Homo sapiens: one gene and its partners. The protein of the gene in region 2 interacts with the protein of the main gene of each other region in a biochemical or structural test. Each region holds a gene or a part of one and is shown on either strand. Other genes may lie near its edges. The genes, in order: PCBD1, ACIN1 and SRPK2.

Region 1 (8,044 bases), on a different chromosome or scaffold from region 2:
ACTTGAACTATCTCCTCAGAAGACTGCTGCTAAAAGTTCCAGGAAGGGAGAGCCCAAGACACATCCTCCTATGGCTCTCCAATCCCCAAAGATGATACTTTCTGAGTTAGACAGGAAAATTAATTTCCCCACTGGCACAGTGCCCAAATAACTGGATGAGTGTGGTGTCTGAGAGTCTTGGCTAACAAGACGTGAAGGGAGAGAACATGCTTTGTAAGGTGACCCCATCAGCCCGTCTCAGAAAACTCTGTCCCACCCTGGTGCCATACCCTGTTGAAGTCTTTGAAATGAAACTGCTTGAAGATGGCATCACGGCCTTCCAGCTCATTCCACCCCACAGCCCTCAGGTTTGGCAGCAGCTGGTCCCTCTCCTCAGCGCTCAGCCTGTGTGCTTTGCCAGCCTAGAAGAGGGAAAAAAACAGAGGCCCAAGGGCATTTCTCTTTATAGGTCAAAACAGAGGGGCTCCAACCTTTAGGGGAACTTAGCTTCCACTGGCTGCTTTGGACGTGGGTGACCAAAGGGCAGCAGGTCTTTGAGCAATAGGCTGGGAGGCCTCAAGGGTGGCACCCTGCCCAGGAGGTGGGGTCCAGGCTCGTCTGCCGATAGGCCCTCAGGTCTTGGGTTTTAACACTCCACACACACACAAGGGAAATCACAAAAGCAATGTAATTCATATGACGGGGACAGAGAAGCACTCTTCCCCCACCCTGCCCTCAAAGCCTTACGGACCTTCCCTCCATGAGATTATTACATCAGTGAGGGCGTAAAAGCAAAATAAATCCCAGATGCAAATATGTTACTCCACAACCTCTCAGGAAGAGTACCCATGACTCTCCCCCCTTCCTTTTCCTATTATGTACTTCATCATATGCACCCCACGTCCCTACCGTAACTTTCACGTGTATTGAAGAGGAAACAGGCCTAGAGAGGGGAAACGACTTGTCTGCTGTTCTTTCCCGCCCACCCCTAGCCAGTGATGGCGCAGTGTTGTCTGTGTGTCAGCATTGCTGGGGCTGGACGAAGGAGCTACATTTAAAATAAGTGTCCATCCCATTCTTAGCCACACTGCAGCTGACCGCCGTTGGCACTACCTCTAGTAGGTCCTCAGTCATGCTCCCAGGCAGCCTCTGGTCCTGAGCCGCCAGGGCTAGGTTTCTCTGGTTTTCCGTCTGCTTTTCTGGCTGGTTGGGAAGCTCAGGCCAAAGTGGAAGGAACTTGGCCAAAGGCAGCTGGCAAACCTAGTGCCCCATCCTATTTACCTAATGTGCGAAGTGCCCTCAAGGCAGCCCAAATTGGCACAATTCAGGCCATGAGTGGAACCTCAGAGAAAGCAAGGAAGCAAGGGTCAGTTTCATCCTAGGAGGATCCAGGTCTAGGAGCTTAACAGATCCCAGAACCTAGGCTTCTAGAGTAGCACCACCCCAGGGCAGAAATAGAGTGCTGAATTGAAAAGATACCCTTAGGGGTGGGGAGGGAATGTGAGGGAGGTTGATTTAGCTTTTATGAGGCAGCCTGCAGACTGGACACCATGTGTTGATTGGCAGGAGTTTTGAGACCCGCTTTCACCATTTACCAGCCAGGTGGCTGTACCTCTCTTGGCAGAACCTCCACCTCCACAGATCATCATGAGGTGCCAATGGGACACTTTAGGAAACTCCACTGCTATAAAGCAAATGTCATCTGCATTACAAAAAAAAAACTTCCTAAGGCAAGCAGGCTTGTGATGGGCCTGGTAGCATTTGGGGTAGCTGAAGCATCGCAGTGCTTTCCTAAGTCCGTCTTTTTTCCCTGCTGTTTTCCCTCCTGAAAACGTGAGCTCTCTCTGGACTGATGTAGCTTGGCCCCTCTCTTCCCCTCGGCTCTGGATGACTATAGGGATTGAATGGCAGCAGCGATTTGCATCATCTGCCCAGTAGGTAGGTCTCTACTCCAGAGCTGGCCTTCTCCCCGTGGCTGACCGCCTGGTCCGTGTATCTAGACAACCAGAAGTCAGCCAAAGCATCAGAGCCCACTGTTTACTTCCTTGGCTCTTAAAGGGGTGGGTGAGTCCAGGTGAGCTCTTAGGAGGCTTCCCTTTCTCGGTAGAGCCTTCTGGAACCCCCCAGGTCGCACAGCCTGCGGCTGAACTGACAAACCTTCCAGGTGCCGGCTCTGGAGACAGAGAGGGGGACGCTGCCCCGTTTGCCTCCTCTGGCGAGGTGTGGGGAGTGGTTACCGATTTCCCAAGCCTGCATCTCTGGGACCTCAGCGCCCCTCACAAACAGCCCCACTCATCCTCCCTCCCCCAAGTCCCTCTCCTATCAAAAGGCCCTCCCAGTCTTGCCTGCTCCGAAGGCCTGTGGACCAGAAATGGTCTGATGAAGCTCGCGAGCTTACAGCAGAGCAAGGGCCCCGCCCCCGCCCCCGCCCCGGGGGTGGGTGGGGGAAGCTCACGGGAGGAGGGCTGCTCCAGCGCCACCAAGCCCCCGTGGCCTGGCACGGGCCTCAAGCCGGCGCGGGGAGTGGCTCTGGGGCCAGCATACCGGCGCAGAGCGTGAGTCCCAGGCAGACCCCGTACCCAGAGTGCCAGCGGGAAGGGGCAGCGGACAGGCACGCACACGAGCGCGCAAACTCAGCCTCCCTCTCGCTCCCACCCCAGTATAAAGCAGAATCGGGCCACCAAGGGGACGAGATCCGTGGACTCCTCCACGACTGTCTTCCCCGGCCCAGGAAGGTCGTAGGCCCCGCCCCCGGAAGGGTCCCGGAACAAGCACTGGCCGGGGTCAGGGCAGGCCTGGCCTCCCAACTGGGTGGGATTCGAACCCGCCACCGCCCCTCTCAGGGCTTCAGCTTCCCCTCCCCGCCGCCAGCGACAGAGAGCCGGGCAGAGACCCCACTTTCGGACCCCGGCGGCTCCGCAGGGGACTCGAAAAGACTTTCCCCCGCCCCTTCCCGCTCCCACCTCGCCCGCGGCTGCCCCGGCCCCGCTGCCCCGATCGCGGCCGCGCACCCCTGGACTCACCATGGCGCGGGCGGCAGCAGGTGGCCAGCGGAGAGGGCAGGCGGCGGCCGGGCGCGCAGGCTGCCGTCCCGGGGCGGGGCCGCGCTCGGGCCGCCCTCCGGTAATGATTAACGTCCCCAGCCAGGGACGCGCTCGGCCTGCTTGCTTCCAGCACTTTCCTCGCTGCTCAGAGCCATCCTCCGTGCTTGTTTCAGGGAGCTAGGGTGAAGCATGAGGGCTCCAAATGCCCGCTTCTGGGTTGGAATCCCACCCCGCCGCTTACAGCTGGGTGGCCCTGGGCGCCAGAATACCTATTTTTTTCTTTATAAAAATCTCTTATTTGGATATAATTGACATGCAATAAATTGCACATATTCAACGTGTACAATTTGATAAATTTTAATGTTTCCCTCGTGAGACCATCACCGAGATCAACATTATGAACATATCATCATCCCTGCAAGTTTTCCCTTGCCCTTTGGTAACCCCTTCCTCCCGAAACCACCTGGCCAGGCAAGCACTGATGTACTTTAGGTCACTATAAATTAGTTTGCATTTTCTAGAATTTTATGTAAATGGACCATAGAGTATATACTAGGCAGGATAACTGTTTTGGGGTTCAGCCATGTTGTTGCCTATATCAATGGTTTCTTCCTTTTATGGCTAAGTAAAATTTATTTTATAGTATTGCATTGTACAGATAGACTACAATTTGTTTAGCGATTCACTATTGGACATTTGCGTTGTTTACCTTTTGGCTATTACAAATAAAGCTGCTGCGAATATGGTGCACAAATCTTCGAAAGTACGTATGTTTTAATTTTCCTTGAGTAAACACTTAGGAATGGAATGCCTGGGTCATGTGGTAGGTGGACTTTTATAACTTATTAGGAAACTGCCATACTGTTTTGCAAAATGGTTGTATCATTTTATATTCCTAGCAGCAGTGTATGAAGGTTGCAGTTCTCTGTCCTCACCAACACTTGATATAGTCAGCCTTTTAAATTTTAATTGGTGTGTAGCAGTATCTCATTGTGGTTTTGAGTTTCCTTGATTAGTAATTGTATTGAATGTCTTTTCATGTACTTATTTGCTAAGGATAAGTTTTTTTTATTGAATAGCATGTTTGAATTTCCTGCCCATTAAAAAAGAAATTGGGTTGTCTTCTTATCGAGTTTTGAGGGTGTTTTATTCTGGATATAAGGACATGATCAGGCAGTGATTTGCAAATATTTTCTTTGCATTATCTTATGGTGCCTTTCAAAGAGCAAACGTTCTTAATTTTGATGAAATCCAATATATCAAATGTTTCTTTTATGGATTTCTATTTTGATGTTGTACACATAGAAATCTTGGCCTAACCCAAGATCAAAAGTTTTCTCCTATGTTTTATAGCTTTTGGTTTTACATTTAGTCTGTGATCCACTTTGAGTAAATATTTTTATATGCTTCAAGTTATAGATCCAGATGCACTTTTGCACATGGCGACTCAGTTATTCCTTTCTCCACTGAGTTGTCTTTGCACCTTTGTAAAATATCAATTGACTGTATACATGTGGGTTTATTTCTGAGCCCTTTCTTCTGTTCCATTGATCTGTTTGTCTGTCATGACAGAACACTACCTTGTCTTGATTATTATAGCTTTATAATAAGTCTTAGAGTCAGATTAGAAAAGTCCTCTCACATTTCACATTTTTCTATTAACTTTTATTCTTGTGCTCCACTTTTATTCCCCGCCCCCCACCACCGCCCATAGCAGCCTCTCTAATGTGTTAATGTGTATTTTTGTTTGCACAGGTTCTTGCAAAATGTGTGGTGTTGTTTCGTCTATGTGTATTTTTAAATTTATGTAAATGGTATTATGTAAATATATTACATTTCTCAGTCTGTTTCTTACAAAACAGAGTATTTAGTGGAAAATTAAGATCTACCCATGTTGCTATATGTATATTCAATCTGTAGCTTTTAACTGCAGCCTAGTATTTTGTAATGAGAATCTGCCATGGGTTTCTTGTTCTATCAGTGATGGACACTCAGGTTCCCTTCAACTTTCTGCTGCTACCACCACCTCCCAAGCCCGTGAGCATGTGGGCACACAAACACATACGTACACAGAGTTAAACAACAATGCTGCTGCAGTGAACATCTCTAATTGCTCCCTGGGCTGTGGGCAGTTTCTTAGGCAACTTAAGTATATCCATACCCTATAAATCCAGCAATTCCCCCCATGGGTGTGTATCTCAAAATAGTTCTAGATGATGTCCAGGATGGGGACACCAGTCCTCATTCTCTCCTGCATGGTGTGAGGGGGTACTATTTCCATATGCATCTTACACATACATACTCACACTTCCCATTAGCCAGCTTTTTATTTTTTTGTCAGGCTAATAGCTATAAAATGAGAGCTTGTTGTGATGCAGGATTTTTCTTGACCCCTTTGCTGAGGTTGCAGCAGGGAGTGCCTTATCTACTCAGCTTGCCAGGCCCCATCTGGCTTGTGTTACAGCCCATGGCTCACAAGGCCACTGCGACTGTATGCTCAGCCCCTGGCGGGAGGGAGCATGTGACCGAGTGAATGCAGGGTCCAGCCAGCTGCACTGAGCCATGACACAGGAACAGGCTCTGTGTGGGGCCCACAGCCAGATCAGGTGTGTCACCCCAAGGAGACTGTGGCAGCACCCAGGCAGGGGTGCCTGAAGCCCCAGAGAGGGGTGTTACAGTGTGCTAAATAGCTCTTTTATCTCCACCATCTGCAGCCTGATGGACAGCGGCATGTTGGCAGCTCAGGCGGCCCCTTTCTCCACTCTGGCCCGTGGCTCCTGGACCAGCTTGGCCCTGCTGCAGCTTCTGTTCTGTGGGGCAGCTGCCCTCCACCAGTGAGGGTAGAGGGCCAGCGTTACAGCCTTTGTGGGTGCCCACATTTGGTGGGTCCTGAGCTCTTGTTCTGCATCCAAGAAGAATGAGGTCATGCTGACAGTTGAAGGGTGATGAGGATGGAGAATTTTATTGACGATGAAACAGCTCTCAGTGGAGAGGGATTGAGAAGGTGGGGTTGTCTATCTCAGTGTGGCTGAGTCTAGGGGGTTTTATAGGCACAGGATTGGGGAGGGGCGGGCTGTAGGTAGTATTAGAAAAGGCAACATTTGATTGGTTAAAAAGCATTATTCAGAAAGAACCAATCAGGAAAGGGTGGGCAAACAGGAACAGAAGTTCTCACCCTGGTTTGAGGGGTTTCATCCCAAACCAGCAGTCCAGGCTGTTTTTGGCTTGAAGGTGGGGTTTCACTGGGGACCCACCCCCATCTGCCTAGGAAATTGTCTGCCTCCTGCCGCTTTCAATTGTTTTACTCTACATTGTTTTCTGATGACTAATGATTTTGAGAACCTCTTCATATGCTTGTTACCATTTGGGGGTTACTATTTGTGAATTGCTTTTTAATATCCTTTGCCAATTTTTGAGAATTTTTAGTGCTCTCTTTTTTTAGTTGGTTTGTGGGTGTTTATATAAAATCTAGACATTAATTGCTTGTCAGTTTTGATATTGCAAATATCTCCTCTCATTCTGCCATCTGTATACTGACTTCTTGCATGAGATCCATGATGTCTGTGGGCAGAAATCTTATATTTTGGTGTAATAAGATTTATCTTTTTTCCCTCTGCCTTATAATTTTGTGCATTTGAAAATTTATTTGATAAGTCCTCTCCCCACCCTGCTACAAAAATATACTCCCTTTTCTTTTGTTAACTTTATAGTTAGATAGATTTAAGACCTAAATGTGAAAGGTCCCTTTTGGTATGTAGTGTTAGGCAGGATGTTAGTCTCCAAAGATAGCCCCCAATGAACCATGACTCCCAATATTCACACCCTGCATAGTTCTCACCCATGTTGAATCTGGGATGGCCCAGTATGACCAGTCAAATATGGCAGAAATGTCACCATGTGACTTTGTTTTGATACAGTGTCTTGCTCTGTCGCCCAGGCTGGAGTGCAGTGGTGCAATCATAGCTCATTGCAGCCTTGACCTCCTGGGCTCAAGTGATCCTCCTGCCTCAGCTCCCCCAGGTAGTCACCATGCCTGGATAATGTTTTAAATTTTTTACAGAGACAGGACATTTCTATGTTGCCAGGCTGGTCTCAAATTCTTGGGCTCAAATGTTGGGCCTTGGCCTCCCAAGTGTGGGATTCCAGGTGTGAGCCACCACATCCAGCTATAACTTCTAAGACTAAGCCAAAGAAACTCTGGGAACTGTTAATCATTCTCCAGCCACGTGAGTGAGACTCTTGGATGCTCAGACCTGCCAAACCTTCAGATGACTTCAGCCCCAGGAGACATCTGACTTCAATCCCACGTGAGGCCCCAAGTGAGACCAGTCAACCCGTGGAAGCATGAGAAATCATAATTTTTGTTTTAAGCCACTCAGCATGATGATTTGTTCTGCAGCAATAGGAACAAATGGCAGGAACAAAATTTGGTGCCTGAAAGTGGAATGTTGCTATAAAAGCAACCTAAAATGTGTAGCGTTAGGTTGAGAATGGGTGGTGAGAGACGGTGGAAGGAAAGACTTAAGGACAGCAAGAAGTATTCACCTTCCATCCAGGAGGCAGAAAGCCTTGCTATCATACTTAACAATGAGAAAAGACTGCATGCACTACAAAGTCATCACTTTTCTTGAGCTCACCAGGGAGGTGAGCTCACAGGGCAACCAAGTATCCTGAATTCCAAGGGGGCAGGTCCCTCCAAGGAGAGGCAGGATGTGCAGTCTGGCTCACTTGGGCAGTGCTTGGAGGAAGGGGCAGCCTCCATTAAAGTGGGTAAGAAGAAAGAAATCAGTTCAGTTTTAACAAATTGTTGGAAGCCAGGTGTGGGCTGGCGTGTCGGTCTGAGACAGCAGGGGGCCCAGACAAGGTGAGAGTTTGCACACACTAACTGCTTCCTCTCTGTGCATGCTCTCAGAGTGCTCATCCGGTGAGGGAGTGGGGAAGGATGAGGGAAGGAGAGGGACCCACTCAGTAGTGTGGGGGCTGAAGGGGCTGTTTTTGCTGTGGGAAAAGCGCCCAACCCC
Region 2 (7,105 bases):
TTAGTCAAAGAACCCTAGGGAGCGAAGAACTATCGCACACTCATAGTTCCCTGTTATACCCCGGTCGAGATATATCACTTACACAGTGTGATGAATTCTTTCTGATTCTGGCAGATGAGAGGTCTGAGTCTCTGAGGTTTGGGGCTGTGTGGCAGCTGGTGGCTCTGCCTCTTCAGCTTCACACTTCTTTGGGCTCCCCTGTCAGGAGATAGCAAAAACGAACAGAGCAAAACATTTAGATCTGCTTGGTTCCTTTTCTTCTACCTGGAGCCTGAAAAAGGCAGGGCAGGACATACACAGTACCAGCTCCACACACGGCCCTCTGTATCTGTTATTTCATTTTAGAATAAGGAAAGGAACATGGCTTAAAAATAGGTACTTCAAGAATATTTATGCCAGTAATCATTTTATCAGAATTTTTAATTTTTTTCCTTTTCCTCAGTGATCCTTGTTCTGACAGAATTCTTTTTTGAGAGAACTGAGAAAAGGCTGACTTCCTTTTGGCAGATAAAAGGAGGAGTTATGAGGAAGAATTGACCCTGGGGGCCCTGGAGATAACCCTGCTGCTCAGCCTCATGTAGAACTTCTACGAACCAGGGAGCTGGAAATGAGTTAAGCAGGATTAACAGGTATCCACCACATTTCTACTGAACCTTGTCCAGACTTAACTTTTTAGTTTTATAGCAAAGACAAGAGGGAAGATCTTGCTTAATCCTCCATCTCTGTGTAGGGAGGGGTCACAATAGCCTACCCGCTCAGGCTGTAACCTCTGGGTCACATGCTTTTCAGCTGATTCAGGCTGACTCAGACGCCTTGCTTGGACAGAGGATGAGGAGGTGGAAGTCCTCTCCTTTGGCTCACAGACCTGCAGTTGTGGCACTGGTGGAGTTGCAACCTCCTGACCAGAAGAGGGATCTTTGGTTTCAGTATAGCTGGTGCTGCTGTCCCTGGAGACTCCAGGGCTCAGAGACTAAAACAAAATGAAACACATAACAAGGAAAATTATTGTATATGGTATATATTCAGTAGATTGCTGAGTTTTCCAGTTTCCATGGACCAAATTTTATACTCTGGACCTTTTTGTCTGTGTTTACTCCCATTTTGTCTGTGTTTATTCCCATTTAGTGGTCTCCTTGACCACTTATTTAACAAATTATTAAGTTTTAACTAGATGCTAGATCCTGGGACACACACGTAAAAGGGCATGCCCACATCCTCAAGAAGTTTCCATCTAGTGGAGGAGATGAGTACATAAATTCAACATTCTATCAAGGGACTCAAAATGAAAAAGAACCCCATTTCGGGAATCAGTTAATTGAAAATACGATTCTGAAATGAGGAGAAAGTAATCAGTGAAGGAGAGTAAAGGAGGCTTTTCCTATTCCTTTCAGAAATCATGACAGGCTCTCCAGGGGCTGAAATGAAAACCACTGGAATATGACAGAACATTAATACACCCGGGATTCTCTCATACTCACTTTTCTGCTGTTGCTTGATGCTGAACGAGAACGTGAACGTGACCTTGATCTGGACTCTGATGTTGATCTGGAGCCCATCTTGGGTCTACCACGAGGGTTGGCATGAGTACGTGCCTGGGCTACATCTCTCTGCTTGGATCTGAGCGGTGAATGAGACCGAGAACCTGAACTGTCAGGAGAGCGAGATCTTGATCTAGAACTGGAGGAGGAAGATGAGGAGGACCGGCTAGAGGATGAATCAGCTGACTGTTTCAATCTGTGGCTTGGGAGAAGGGTATGAGAAGCTCTTCTGCCTTCCTTCTGTTCCAAAGATGGCTGTTTCAGACATTCTTCAGTGATTCCTTTGGCCAGTGCTAATTCCTCAATTTTTAGAGGGAGGGGCTGAGCAGATCTGTCTGACTCAGGTTCAAGATCCTTCTGGGCTGAGTAGTCAGCCAGTGTGCTTTTCTGAACCAGAGGCAGGACACTCTCCTCTGGCACTTTCTCTGCTGGAGATTCTGCTTTGGTGTCTGAAGGACTTGACAAAGGAGACAGGCCTCCTACCAACTGGACAGTATGCTGAGATACTAATAGCTCCCTGGTGTCAGCATCTGTATTAGGAGGAGATAACTGAATGAGGACAGCGGGGGCTGGGCCTTCCATGGGCTCTATTTCTTCTTCGCTATGGAGCTGTGGATGAGGTGGTGGAGAAGATGCTTCCTTTGTTAGTAAAGGTGGAGGAGTCTCCTCCTCGCTGGCAGTTTGCTCTGGCAGCGCTACAAGTGAGGCCTTCTTTCGATCTTCAGTCAGTCGAGGAGGGGAAGGAGACTTCGATTTTTCCTTTAAGCCTTGTGAAGATTTTATTTCTCTTTCTTCCTCCTCAAGGGGAGATGTTGTTTTCATTTCCTTCTCCTGCTGCTGTCTGGCCAGATGACTTTTTCTAGCCTCTTCCTGGGATCTTGTAAATCTCCCTCCTCTCTCTAACACCTCCTGTTCCTGGGATCTTGTTTTGGGTCTCTCATCCATCATCTCCTCTGGTTTTACTCTAGGTATCTCTTCCCCTTCTTCCTTAAACTCTTTCAGGATTGGTGCCTCCCTAGATTTTTGTCCCTCATCATCACCTTCCTCTTCTTCATCATCTTCTTCCTCCTCCTCCTCCTCCTCTTCTTCCTCCTCTGTTTTCAAATTTCGATCTGCTCTGACCCTTAGGTTTCTGGAAGGTGTTTCTTGATCCTCTTCCTCCTCAGCAGGTTGGCTGCCCTCAGACAGTTTAGCTGCTCTTGCCTGAAAGAACAGATACACAATGGCTCCAAATGTATTTGCTCACAGTCAACAGAGGAGAGAAAGTATCTAATGAAGACACCCCTAGGAAGGAGAAATTCAATGATATATACTTTCAGCAACAGAAACAGGAGTGACAGGAGACAATCATGACTAACGTAGCCCTTAGGGGAATCAAAACAAAGTGACCAAAAGAAATATCACAATGAAGCTACTTGTATGTAGTTTAAATTTTAGCTTCAAGCACCCCCTTTTTTTTTTTTTCAGTAAAATATTAGCAGAACATCTGGAAAGTAAAAGGGTGGATAGGGGGCTGAAAGGAACTAACCTACTATCAATTAATACGATTATCTTTTTATCATTTTGGTATATTTCTTTTTGTTCTTTCCTCTAATCATTTCCTTTGTACAGTCATAATTACACTACACATAACATTTTTGTATTCTGCCCACTTAGTGTTATATAACTTTAAAGCTTTGATTGAATGGTTAATTATGTCATATCTTGTCTAATAATGTGCTTTAAGAATACAGAGCAGCCTGCTAATTTTCAAATTTAAACTTTTAAAAAATATTCACTTAGAAATCTAAAAGGCAGAGCAGATCTAAATAAAAAGACAAAACGAACAACAAAAAGATGACAAAGAGGAGAAGGAAGATAACCACAAAGAAATCTAGAGGCCAGGCAGTGGCTCATGCCTGTAATCCCAATCCTTTGGGAGGCTGAGGTGGAAGGACTGCTTAAGCCTAGGAGGTCGAGGCTGTAGTAAGCTGTGATTGTGCCACTGCACTCCAGCCTAGGCGACAGAGCCAGACTCTGTCCCAAAAAAGAAAAACAAAACCCCTAAATGTAGAGACATACAAACTCAAAACAAGTCTGAAGAAGAGAAGATATCCAAAGCATTACTGAAGAGGTAATGCTTTAGGAGGTATCTGAGTTACCTGTCTGACCCTAGATGATCGTCTTTCTCCTTTCCTTGGTTTCTCATCATCAGAGTCACCTTTCTCTTCAGAAATTGAGGAGCTTTTTCCTATTGAATGAAAAAGAATCAAGTCAGATTCATGAAGTGAAGACTCATTCATGGCTTTTTAAAAATCAGGCTTTCTAATATCCAACCAATTATAGCATATGAGCCTATCAAGACATATCTGTATCGGTTTCTTTGACTTCTACACTAAAGAAAAGACTACAAAAAGCCCTAACTAGGTCAGGGTCTTATTGGTAATTCTTGGTGTGCAAGTCTAGAATATTTTCAACACCTCGAAGCCAATTCACATGTTATAAATAACTCAAATAAATGTAAAATAATTTCCAGGGGCTTCAAACTGTCTAGCAGGGATGTACAAATATGAAGTGTACTTATTTCTACAAAGTGTTCTTACTCTGAATAAAGTTTAAGACTTCATTATGTTCTGTATCCATTTTTTTGGATTGCCTATTACTACTACTTTCTAATTTCAACCAAAATATTATGATGAAATATATGAATTTGCACAATAACAAACTCAAGAAATAAATACTTAGAGGAATGTTTTTCAGCGCCCTAAAGTTCCTGAAATTACTTCAAGCCAACTGGATGGGGTTTCAGAATTGGGTCCTGTCTATTAGGTTTTATGTATTAGAGCTCAATATTTTTTTTTTTTTTTTTTTTTTTTCTGAGATGGAGTCTCACTCTGTCACCCAGGCTGGATGCAGTGGTGCAATCTCGCCTCACTGCGACCTCTGCCCCCTGGCTTCAAACCAGTCTCATGCCTCAGCCTCCTGAGTAGCTGGGATTACAGGTGCCCACCACCATGCCTGGCTAATTTTTGTATTTTTAGTAGATATGGGGTTTCATCCTGTTGGACAGGCTGGTCTCAAACTCCTGACCTCAAGTGATCTGCCCGCCTTGGCCTCCCAAAGTGCTGGGATTACAGGCATGAGCTCACATGTTTTTCTTTTTTTTTTTTTGAGACAGAGTTTTGCTCTTGTTGCCCAGGATGGAGTGCAATGGCATGATCTAGGCTCACCACAACCTCCGCCTCCCAGGTTCAAGCGATTCTCCTGCTTCAGCCTACCGGGCAGCTGGGACTGCAGGCGCACGCCACCATACCTGGCTAATTTCGGTATTTTTTACAGAGGCGGGGTTTCATCATGTTGCCTAGGCTGGTTCGAACTCCTGGGCTCAAGCAATCCCCCCGCCTTGGCCTCCCAAAGTGCTGGAATTACAGGCGTGAGTCACCGCACCCGGACTAGGTGAGATTTTTTTTTTTTTTAAGGAAAAAAAAAGTTCTATTAAAAAGCTTGGAAACCACCAATCTAGGTTATCCTGAACAATAAATCCATGTAAAACGGAAAGAAAGTTTCACTCAAATTCCATGAAGGAAGGTAACTGGGTAAATCACTTAAGTAATTTGGGTCTCAATATCTTTCTTTTTAGACAGTGTTTTACTCTGTCACCCAGGCTGGAGTGCAGTGGCATGATCATGGCTCACTGCAGCCTCAGCCTCCAGGGCTCAAGTAATCCTCCCACCCCGGTCCTCCCAAAGTGCTGAGATTAAGGTATAAACCACTGTGCCCGAGTCTCAAATGTCATGATTGAGAAAAAGGAGGGGCTGCACTAGATGATTTCCAAATTTCCTACCAGAATTAAGATCAACTAGGCGGCCGGGCACGGTGGCTCACGCCTGTAATCCTAGCACTTTGAGAGGTCGAGGCAGGCGGATCACGACGTCAGGAGATCGAGACCATCCTGGCTAACATGGTGAAACCCTGTCTCTACTAAAAATACAAAAAATTAGCCAGGCGTGGCGGCAGGTGCCTGTAGTCCCAGCTACTCAGGAGGCTGAGGCAGAATGGCGTGAACCTGGGAGGCGGAGCTTGCAGTGAGTCGAGATCGCGCCACTGCACTCCAGCCTGGGCGACAGAGCGAGACTCCGTCTCAAAAAAACAAAAAAGATCAACTATGTACAGTAGCAATACTAACATCAATGAGAACCAGTTTAGAAAATAGCAGGAAGATAATTATATTCCAGATACTTGATCAGCTAGATTGGACTCAATGTTAATACAGTACAAAAGGTTCTGTACACAAAACCATGTTGTATAGTAATAGTGCAAATAAAGCAGATGGTATGCAGCTCTAACCCAAGATCTTCTCTCTTATTTTTTTTTTTTTCTGAGAGAGAGTCTTGCTCGTTGCCCAGGCTGGAGTGCAATGGCACGATTTCGGTTCACTGCAACCTCCGCCTCCTGGGTTCAAGTGATTCTCCTGCCTCAGCCTCCTGAGTAACTGGGACTACAGGCGCCCGCCACCACGCCTGGTTAACTTTTGTATTTTTAGTAGAGACGGGGTTTTGCCACGTTGGCCAGGCTGGTCTCGAACTCCTGACCTTGTCATCCTCCCCCTCCTTGGCCTCCCAAAGTGCTGGGATTACAGGTGTAAGCCACCATGCCCGGCCTTCTCTATTTCTATATCCTTACAATCTAAAATGAACTAGGCGAATGCTTCTGTAATAATAATTAAAAAATCAAAATGAGGCTGGGCACGGTGGCTCATGCCTGTAATCTCAGCACATTGAGAGGCCGAGGCGGGCAGATCACGAGGTCGGGAGTTTGAGATTAGCCTGGCCAATTAGGTAAAACCTCATCTCTACTAAAAATACAAAAAAAATTTTAGCTGGGCGTGGTGGCGTACGCCTGCAGTCCCAGCTACTCAGGGGGCTGAGGCAGAAGAATCGCTTGAACCTGGGAGGCAGAGGTTGTAGTGAGCCGAGATGGCGCTATTGCACTCCAGCCTGGGCGACAGAGCGAGACTCCATCTCAAAAAAGAAAAAAAAAAAAAAAAACCCAAAATGAAACTAATGAAATCAATTAGAAGACTACACATATTTTGTAAAACTTTACTTCATGATCATTTGATTAAAAGGACCTCTGAGTATATACCATTTCGTATCTGGGTAAGTGAAGAAAGATTTGTGTTATGGTTGTTCATACAGGATATATGATTAGAATATATAGTGAAAGGCCAGACTCTTTAGCAAACATTTGAAGACATCTGTAAGACAGTAGTGCAGTGAAATGAAATACTCATTTCATAATTCAGTGATCTGAAATAGGCTAAGTTATAAAATAAGTAAAACCAAAATAAAAAGTTTTCATAAATGTTAGGCAAAGTTCCTTCACAAGTATCAGTGAAAGAAGCTGATTTATCTCACACACACCAAAAAAAAAAGGCAAGTGCAAGGTTGGTCAGAGATAAATGTGTTAAAGTCAACGCTGGGCGCAGTGGCTCACGCCTGTAATCCCAGCACTTTGGGAGGCCGAGGTGGGCGATCACGAGGTCAGGAGATTAAGACCATGGTGAAACCCCGTCTCTACTAAAAATA
Region 3 (7,164 bases), on a different chromosome or scaffold from region 2:
AGGGTTGTCACAAGGTATATGTAAAACAATCGACAGAGTGACTGGCACAGTGTTCAAATGTCATCTATTATTATTACTTAACATGTCCCATCTTCATTTTCTTCCTATCCCTTAGCCCTATCTGAAATTATCTTGTCACCCTCTTTGTGGTTTTCCCCAAACCTCCCAAGGTTAGCTTTGCAAGGAGCTTTGTCTTGTTCAAAACTCTATCACCGGCCGGGCTTGGTGGCTCACGCCTGTAATCCCAGCACTTTAGGAGGCCGAGGCGGGCGAATCACGAGGTCAGGAGATCGACACCATCCTGGCTAACACGGTGAAACCCCACCTCTACTAAAAATACAAAATATTAGCCGGGCGTGGTGGCGGGCGCCTGTAGTCCCAGCTACTCAGGAGGCTGAGGCAGGAGAATGGCGTGAATTCGGGAGGCGGAGCTTGCAGTGAGCCGAGATCGCGCCACTGCCCTCCAGCCTGGGCAACAGAGCAAGACTCGGTCTCAAAAAAAAAAAAAAAACAACCTCTAACACCATCTCCGAAGACAGACATGTAAATACCTATTGAAGACATGAATAAATAAATAACATCAAACAGTTCTTTTAAATAATATCTTGATTCAGGTCGGGCACGGTGGCTCACACCTGTAATCCCAGCTGTGTGGGAGGCCGAGGCCGGTGAATCACCTGAAGTCAGGAGTTGTAGACCAGCCCGGCCAACATGGTGAAACCCCGTCTCTACTAAAAAATACAAAAAAAATAGCTAGGCTTGGTGGCGGGTGCCTGTAATCCCAGCTACTCAGGAGGCTGAGGCAGGAGAATCCCTTGAACCTGGGAGGCGGAGGTTGCAGTGAGCCAAGATTGGGCCATTGCACTCCAGCCTGAGCGACAAGAGCGAAACTCTGCCTCAAAAAAATTATTAAATAAAATTATGACTTGATTCAAAGAGTTAAGTGAAAAATGGCAATGCCTCAATCAGTTATATAATTGGGCTGGTCCCGTTACCTTACAGACTAGAGCCAGTTCGTTTCATCATTAGCTGGTGTGTTATTTTCCCCCTCAAATTCTATCACATATACACAATACACAGTGGGAGAAACTGGCAGATTAATCTGTGAGAGGAAAAGCTGAGTACTGTGGCTATTCACTAAGTCTTCATCAACATACCACATAAATCCAAACTGCGGCCCACCAAAAAGGCCCTCGACCATTAGGAAAATCATACTCTAATATATGCAAATACAAGACACATATTGACTTAATTAGAACTGTTTTTCCACATGTACGTAAAGGTAACATGCACATATACGTGTCTATTTGTATATACATGCACACATAGCCATCTCCGACACTGGGGTCATACTTTTTCCACTTGTTTTTATGTTTCTGAGTATAACAGACTACGTGGAATTAAATCAATGCTTTGAATTAAGAGCTGTGATTAAAACACAGTACTTATTCAGAATCCTAAACATTACAGTTCTCCTTACCACTGGGTAAACTTCCATGGTTCACCAAAGGAAATCTCAAATTTAAGGTTGTAATTCACTTGAAAGCTAGCACTAATTTTTTTAAAAGCAACCAAAACTACCAAAAATCCAGTCCATTTTAACATCTTATGAATTCAATATCCAATTTTTACCGACCAATTAGTTCTTCAACTCTTTAGGAAGTGCTTTCCCCTTACTCTAATGGTTTTTTCTTTTTTTTTTTTTTTTAAGGTATTTTTAAGTCACTATCCACATTTTGTGAAACTGAAGGACCAAGGCCAACGAGAAGGGGAAAAAAGTGAGCGTGCTGCGACGTACCCCTCAAAGGAAACAACCAAAAATGTTTCTGGATTTTATTAAAGATAATGCTGGATTCTCGTTCCCCACAGTACCAAAGATGCCACACAGAGTATTCTTGCTCAAAAGAGCGAAGCAATTAATCTAGAGGAAGAGATAACGATGTCGAACGCTGGTAAATCAAAAAAATTAGGAGAGAGGAGTGGAAAAGGAGAAGACGCGGCGGCGCTGTGCGGTCTCGGAGCAGCTCTCCAGGAAAGGGTTCTTGGGCAGCGGCCCCCCTGCTCGGGTGAGCGGCCAGGCTGGAGGTGGCCGCCACGGGCGCGTTTTCCACTCCGACCGGCTCCCGCGCACACGCCCACCGCCCTGCGCAGCCCGCGACCCCGGCGCCCGCAGCGCACCCAAGTCACGCTCAACCCGAGCGGAAAGTTTCGAATCCAAACCCGAGAGCCGAAACGCACAGGTCTCGGGGCTGAACTCGCGCCAGGAACACGCCCGAGGCAAACCACTTGACAACCAGCTTAGGTTCTCAGCAGAAAGGCCGACAGGCGGGGGCCGGGGAGGAAGGGGAGGCGAGACACACGCCCTCCCGCACACTCGGCCCCTCCGCCTCCTCGGCCCGCGGCTCAGGTGGGAGCAACGCAGCCGCTGCACTCCCGCAGCGGGCGGGCCGGAGCCCAGCGGCAGACGCCGGGGCCCCTTCCGGAAAGGGCCGCGACCCCCGGGCCAGCTCGCGGGCAAGGGACGGGTGCGCACGCCCTGCCCGGCGCCTTTCCGCCGGCCTCCCGCCCGCCGGCCGGTGGCGACCCGGGGCGGGAGGTCGCGGGGTCGAGGCTCCGTGATGCTAGGGAACCGGCCGCGGCCCGCGCGCCCCTCCCCCGCCGCCGCCCCTCCCCCCGGGCCGCCCGCCGGGGGCAGGAGCCGAGCGCCAGCGTCCCGGGGGACCAGCCCGCCCGCCGGCCCGGGGACCCGGACAACTTTCCCCTGCGCGGCCGCGGGCGCCCCCGACGGGGCGGGGGTGGGGAACGGGGACAGGCGCAGCGTGGACTCACTTTTTCGGATGTTTCTCTCTTTTCGGCCTCCGCTTTCGGGCCTGAATGGCCAGCACTGGGGAAGAGAAGACACACATTAACGGTCGGGCCGCCCGCCCGGGCTGGCCGCGTGGCGGGGAGAGGGCGCGCCGCGGGCCACTCACCTTTCCGGGAGCTCATTCCGACGCGGCGGAAGCGGGGCGGGGGGCTTCGCGACGGCGACGCGGGCGCCGAGACGAGCTGGGCTGCAGCCTCCACTCGCTCCGCCGGCCGGGAGGAGACGAGAACCGCGCCTGCGCCGCCGCCGCCGCCGCCGCTCCAGCAGGGACCCAGCAAGACCCGCCCCCGTCCGGCCCCGCCCCCGCCCCGCCCCCACCCGCCGGCCCCGGGGGTCGGGACCCCAGCGCCGCGCGCCCAGCGCCCCGCGCCCCCGCCCCACCCACCTGTGCAGAAGTGGCCGCCGCCCATGGCCGCGCTGGCCCTCGGCCTCCCCCACCCCAGCCCGCGGCCCGGGCCTCCGCCTCCTGCGATCCTGCGGCTGGCCCAGGCCGCCCGCCTCTCCCGGGCACCGGACCCGCGGGACCCTCCCTCCCCGCCGCGGCCTCTCCCCTCCGCACCCCGGCCGGTCGCGCCGCCCGCTGCTCCATGCGCCCGTCCTTGGCCGGCGCCTCCGCGGGTCTCGCACCACCTCTCTTCCCGCGGCCTCTTCTCTCCCTTTGCTCCTCTACATCCTTGCAACCCCATGAGCGCCGCTTCCTCCTCTCCGGCAGGCGTGGAAAGGGCACACGACCAAAAGCTGGGAAACCTGGGTCCGCGATTAGCGGTGTGACCTTGGAGAAGTCATTTTCTCTCCCACCTCTAAGTGCCCTCCAGGATTGCATGAGTTTAATGAAGGAAAAGATACAGATAGCATTCAAGGTAGGACAAAGGTTTTGCACATGAATTGAAACTCGCTTCCGTAAACACCAGGTGTATAACAATTCAAAACAACAATCACACCAAGTAGTTATTTTCTGCATCCTACAATGAGGAAACTGAGTCCCAACGAGGTTAAAAAGTTTAACCAGCCAGGATCGAAATTCAGGCCTGGCCGTCGACAAACCACCTTATCAGGCTGCCTACAAAAGATGTGAATCAAGTTGATAGTGACACAAAAAGATAACTGCAATGTTCTCTTATTTATGTAAATAATTACAATAGTTTTTGAAAGATACGCATTCTGACTATTAACTCCCTCATTGGTCACACAACTGTATCTTTGACAAGGTGGCTTACACTAAGGATGATAAATCAGAACGGGAAACTCTGCTTGGATTTTGAAGAGTCCTTAACTTTTTATATTCAAAAAAATATCAAACCCTATAGAAAAGTTACAAGGAAAATACAATTAACAGCCAAATTAACCCATATTCACCAATTTTTAACATTCTGCCACATTTGCTATCTATGTGTCTGTGTGTATGGTTTATTTTGCTGAATCACTTGAGTTTTTGTAGACACTGTTACCCTTTATCCCTAAATATTTCAGTACATATCTACTAAGAATAAAGATAATCTCCCACATAATCAGAATTCCATGATCACTCCAAGAAACTTTCATACTAATACAATGTAATCATCTGTAACATACAGGCCATATATATTCAATTTTGCAAAATATCCCAGTAATATCCCTTGTCGCTGATTTTCTTTTTTTCCCAATTAGTCTACCATTAAGGATCATCCGTTGCATTTAATTGTCATGTCTTTTTAAACACCTTTAGTCTAGAATCATTCTTGGTTTTGTGTTTTGGTTTTCTTTCTATTTATTTATTTATTTTGAAATGGAGTCTCACTCTATCACCCAGGCTGGAGTGCAGTGGCGCAATCTCAGCTCACTGCAACCTCAGCCTCCCGGGTCCAAGCCATTCTCCTGCCTCAGTCTCCCGAGTAGCTGGGATTACAGGCATACACCACCACATCTAGTTAATTTTTGTTTTTGTTTTTTTTTTTTTTTTTTTTTTTTTAGTAGAGACAGGGTTTCACCCTATTGGCCAGGCTGGTCTCGAACTCCTGACCTCGGGTCATCCACCCACCTCAACCTCCCAAAGTGCTAGGATTACAGGCCTGAGCCTCGGCACCCAGCCTTTTTTTGTTTTGTTTTGTTTTGTTGTTTATAACATTGACTTTTTTGAAGAATCCAGTTCCACCATTTTGCAGAATGTTCCCTGTTTTGGATTTGTCTGTTTCCCTATGATTAGATTCAAGTTAAACAATTTTGTTGGCTATACTATAGATGATGTTGTATTCATCTTAGTGCATCAAAATATGATGTCAGTTTGTTCCATTACTGGTGATGTTACAGTTAATTATTTCTCCAAGATACAGGTACCTTTTCCCTCTGTATTTAAGAAGTCTGTATGAAAAATGAGCAAAGGATTTGAATGGACATTTCTCCAAAGACATGCAAATGACCAAACTAGCATGTGACAAGAGAATTAACATCATTAGTTGTTAGGAAAATACAAAGCAAAACTATAATGAGCTACTACTTCACACCTACTAGGATGACTATAAAATTTATTTATTTATTTATTTATTTATTTATTTATTTATTGAGATGGAATTTCGCTCTTGTTGCCCAGGCTGGAGTGCAATGGCACGATCTCAGCTCTTCGCAACCTCTGCCTCCCAGGTTCAAGTGATTCTCCTGCCTCAACCCTCCGAGTAGCTGGGATTACAGGCATGTGCTACCACGCCTGGCTAATTTTGTATTTTTAGTAGATCTGGGGTTTCTCCATGTTGGTCAGGATGGTATCGAACTCCCAACCTCAGGTGATCCACCTTCCTTGGCTTCCCAAAGTGCTGGGATTACAGGCATGAGCCACTGCGCCCGGCTAAAAATTTTTGTAATGGAAAATAAGGCCAAACGTGATGTCTCACAAGTGTAATCTCAGCATTTTGGAGGCTGAGGCTGGAGGATCATCTGAGTCCAGGAGTTGGCGGCTGCAGTGAACTATGATCGCACCACTGCACTCCAGCCTGGGCAACAGAGTGAGACCCCATCTCAAAAAAAAAATGTTAATGGAAAAAAAGTGTTGGTGGGGATTTTGGAACCCTCATATGTTGGAAACATTGAAACCCTCCTACATTTCTGGTGGGAATGTAAAATGGTGCAGTTATTATGGAAACAGTCTGTTGGCTTCTCAGAAAGCTAATTATAGAATTAACAGCAATTCCACTCCTAGGTATATATGCACAAGGACTGAAAACAGATACTCAAACAAATCTTTGTACATGAGTGTTCATAGCAGCGCTATCACAGCCAAAAGGTGGAAAAAACCTAAATGGTCATCCATAAATGAATGGATAAACAAATTGCGGTATATACATACACTGGAATATTTTTTTGGCCATAAAAAGAATTTAGTACTGACACATGCTACAATGTGGATGAACATCAAAAACATTATGCTAAATAAAAGCAGCCAGACACAAAATGTCACATATTGTATGATTCCATTTATATGAGATATCCAGAATAGGCAAATCTACAGAAAGCAGATTGGTGGTTGCCAGGAGTTGGGGGGTGGGAGAAGGAGGGAGCAACTGCTTAATGGGTACCAAGTTTTATTTTGGTGTGATGAAGATGTTTTGGTGCTAGATAGAGGTGGTGGTGGCACAACATTGCTAATAGACTAAAAGCCACTGAATTGTTCTCTTTAAAGTGGTTTCTTTCATTTAATGTGAATTTCACTTCAAAACAAAACAACAAAGTTACTTGTGTGGGGTGATACTTTGAAACTGTGTGAATATCTCTTCCCTGACAATATCTCAATGGGTTGGCATCCATTGATGATTCTTGCCTAAATCAACTATTACCACACTGGTTGTAGAACAGTGATTTTATAATCCTATCATTTTTGAGATGGGCATCTTGCTCTGTTGCCGAGGCTGGAGTGCAATGGTGTGATCTCAGCTCACTGTAACCTCCACTTCCCAGGTTCAAGTGATTTTCCCACCTCAGCCTCCCAAGTAGCTGGGACTACAGACGCACACCATTTGTATTTTTAGTAGACACGGGTTTTCACCATGTTGGCCAGGCTGGTCTGAAACTCTTGGCCTCAAGTGATCCACCTGCCTCTGCCTCCCTAAGTGCTGGGATTACAGGTGTGAACCACTATACCCAGACTTAAGTGATATTCTTTTTTTCTTTTTTTTTTTTGAGAGAGGGTCTTGCTCCGTCGCCCAGGCTGGAGTGCAGTGGTGTGATCTCCGCTCATTGCAACCTCCGCCTCCCAGGTTCAAACAATTCTCCTCCCTCAGCCTCCCAAGTAGCTGGGACTACAGGCATGTACCACCACACCCGGCTAATTT

What was found.
Region 1: the proteins of ACIN1 (region 2) and PCBD1 form a complex in vitro, tested with the Homo sapiens proteins (one study listed by BioGRID).
Region 3: of the proteins of ACIN1 (region 2) and SRPK2, one has a biochemical effect on the other in vitro, tested with the Homo sapiens proteins (one study listed by BioGRID).

The regions. Positions count from the first base shown.
Region 1 is NC_000010.11:70,885,529-70,893,572, forward strand, and holds the start of PCBD1 (pterin-4-alpha-carbinolamine dehydratase), read right to left. Parts: upstream 3,038-8,044; 5' UTR 3,006-3,037; coding exon 3,003-3,005; intron 2,354-3,002; exon of another isoform or gene 2,325-2,353; intron 402-2,324; coding exon 270-401; intron 1-269. UniProt on the Homo sapiens protein: Involved in tetrahydrobiopterin biosynthesis. Seems to both prevent the formation of 7-pterins and accelerate the formation of quinonoid-BH2. Coactivator for HNF1A-dependent transcription.
Region 2 is NC_000014.9:23,078,069-23,085,173, forward strand, and holds part of ACIN1 (apoptotic chromatin condensation inducer in the nucleus), read right to left. Parts: intron 4,147-7,105; exon of another isoform or gene 3,769-4,146; coding exon 3,680-3,768; exon of another isoform or gene 2,742-3,679; coding exon 1,479-2,741; exon of another isoform or gene 1,392-1,478; intron 971-1,391; coding exon 752-970; intron 630-751; exon of another isoform or gene 199-629; coding exon 83-198; intron 1-82.
Region 3 is NC_000007.14:105,385,819-105,392,982, forward strand, and holds the start of SRPK2 (SRSF protein kinase 2), read right to left. Parts: upstream 3,104-7,164; 5' UTR 2,989-3,103; coding exon 2,973-2,988; intron 2,885-2,972; coding exon 2,830-2,884; intron 1-2,829. UniProt on the Homo sapiens protein: Serine/arginine-rich protein-specific kinase which specifically phosphorylates its substrates at serine residues located in regions rich in arginine/serine dipeptides, known as RS domains and is involved in the phosphorylation of SR splicing factors and the regulation of splicing.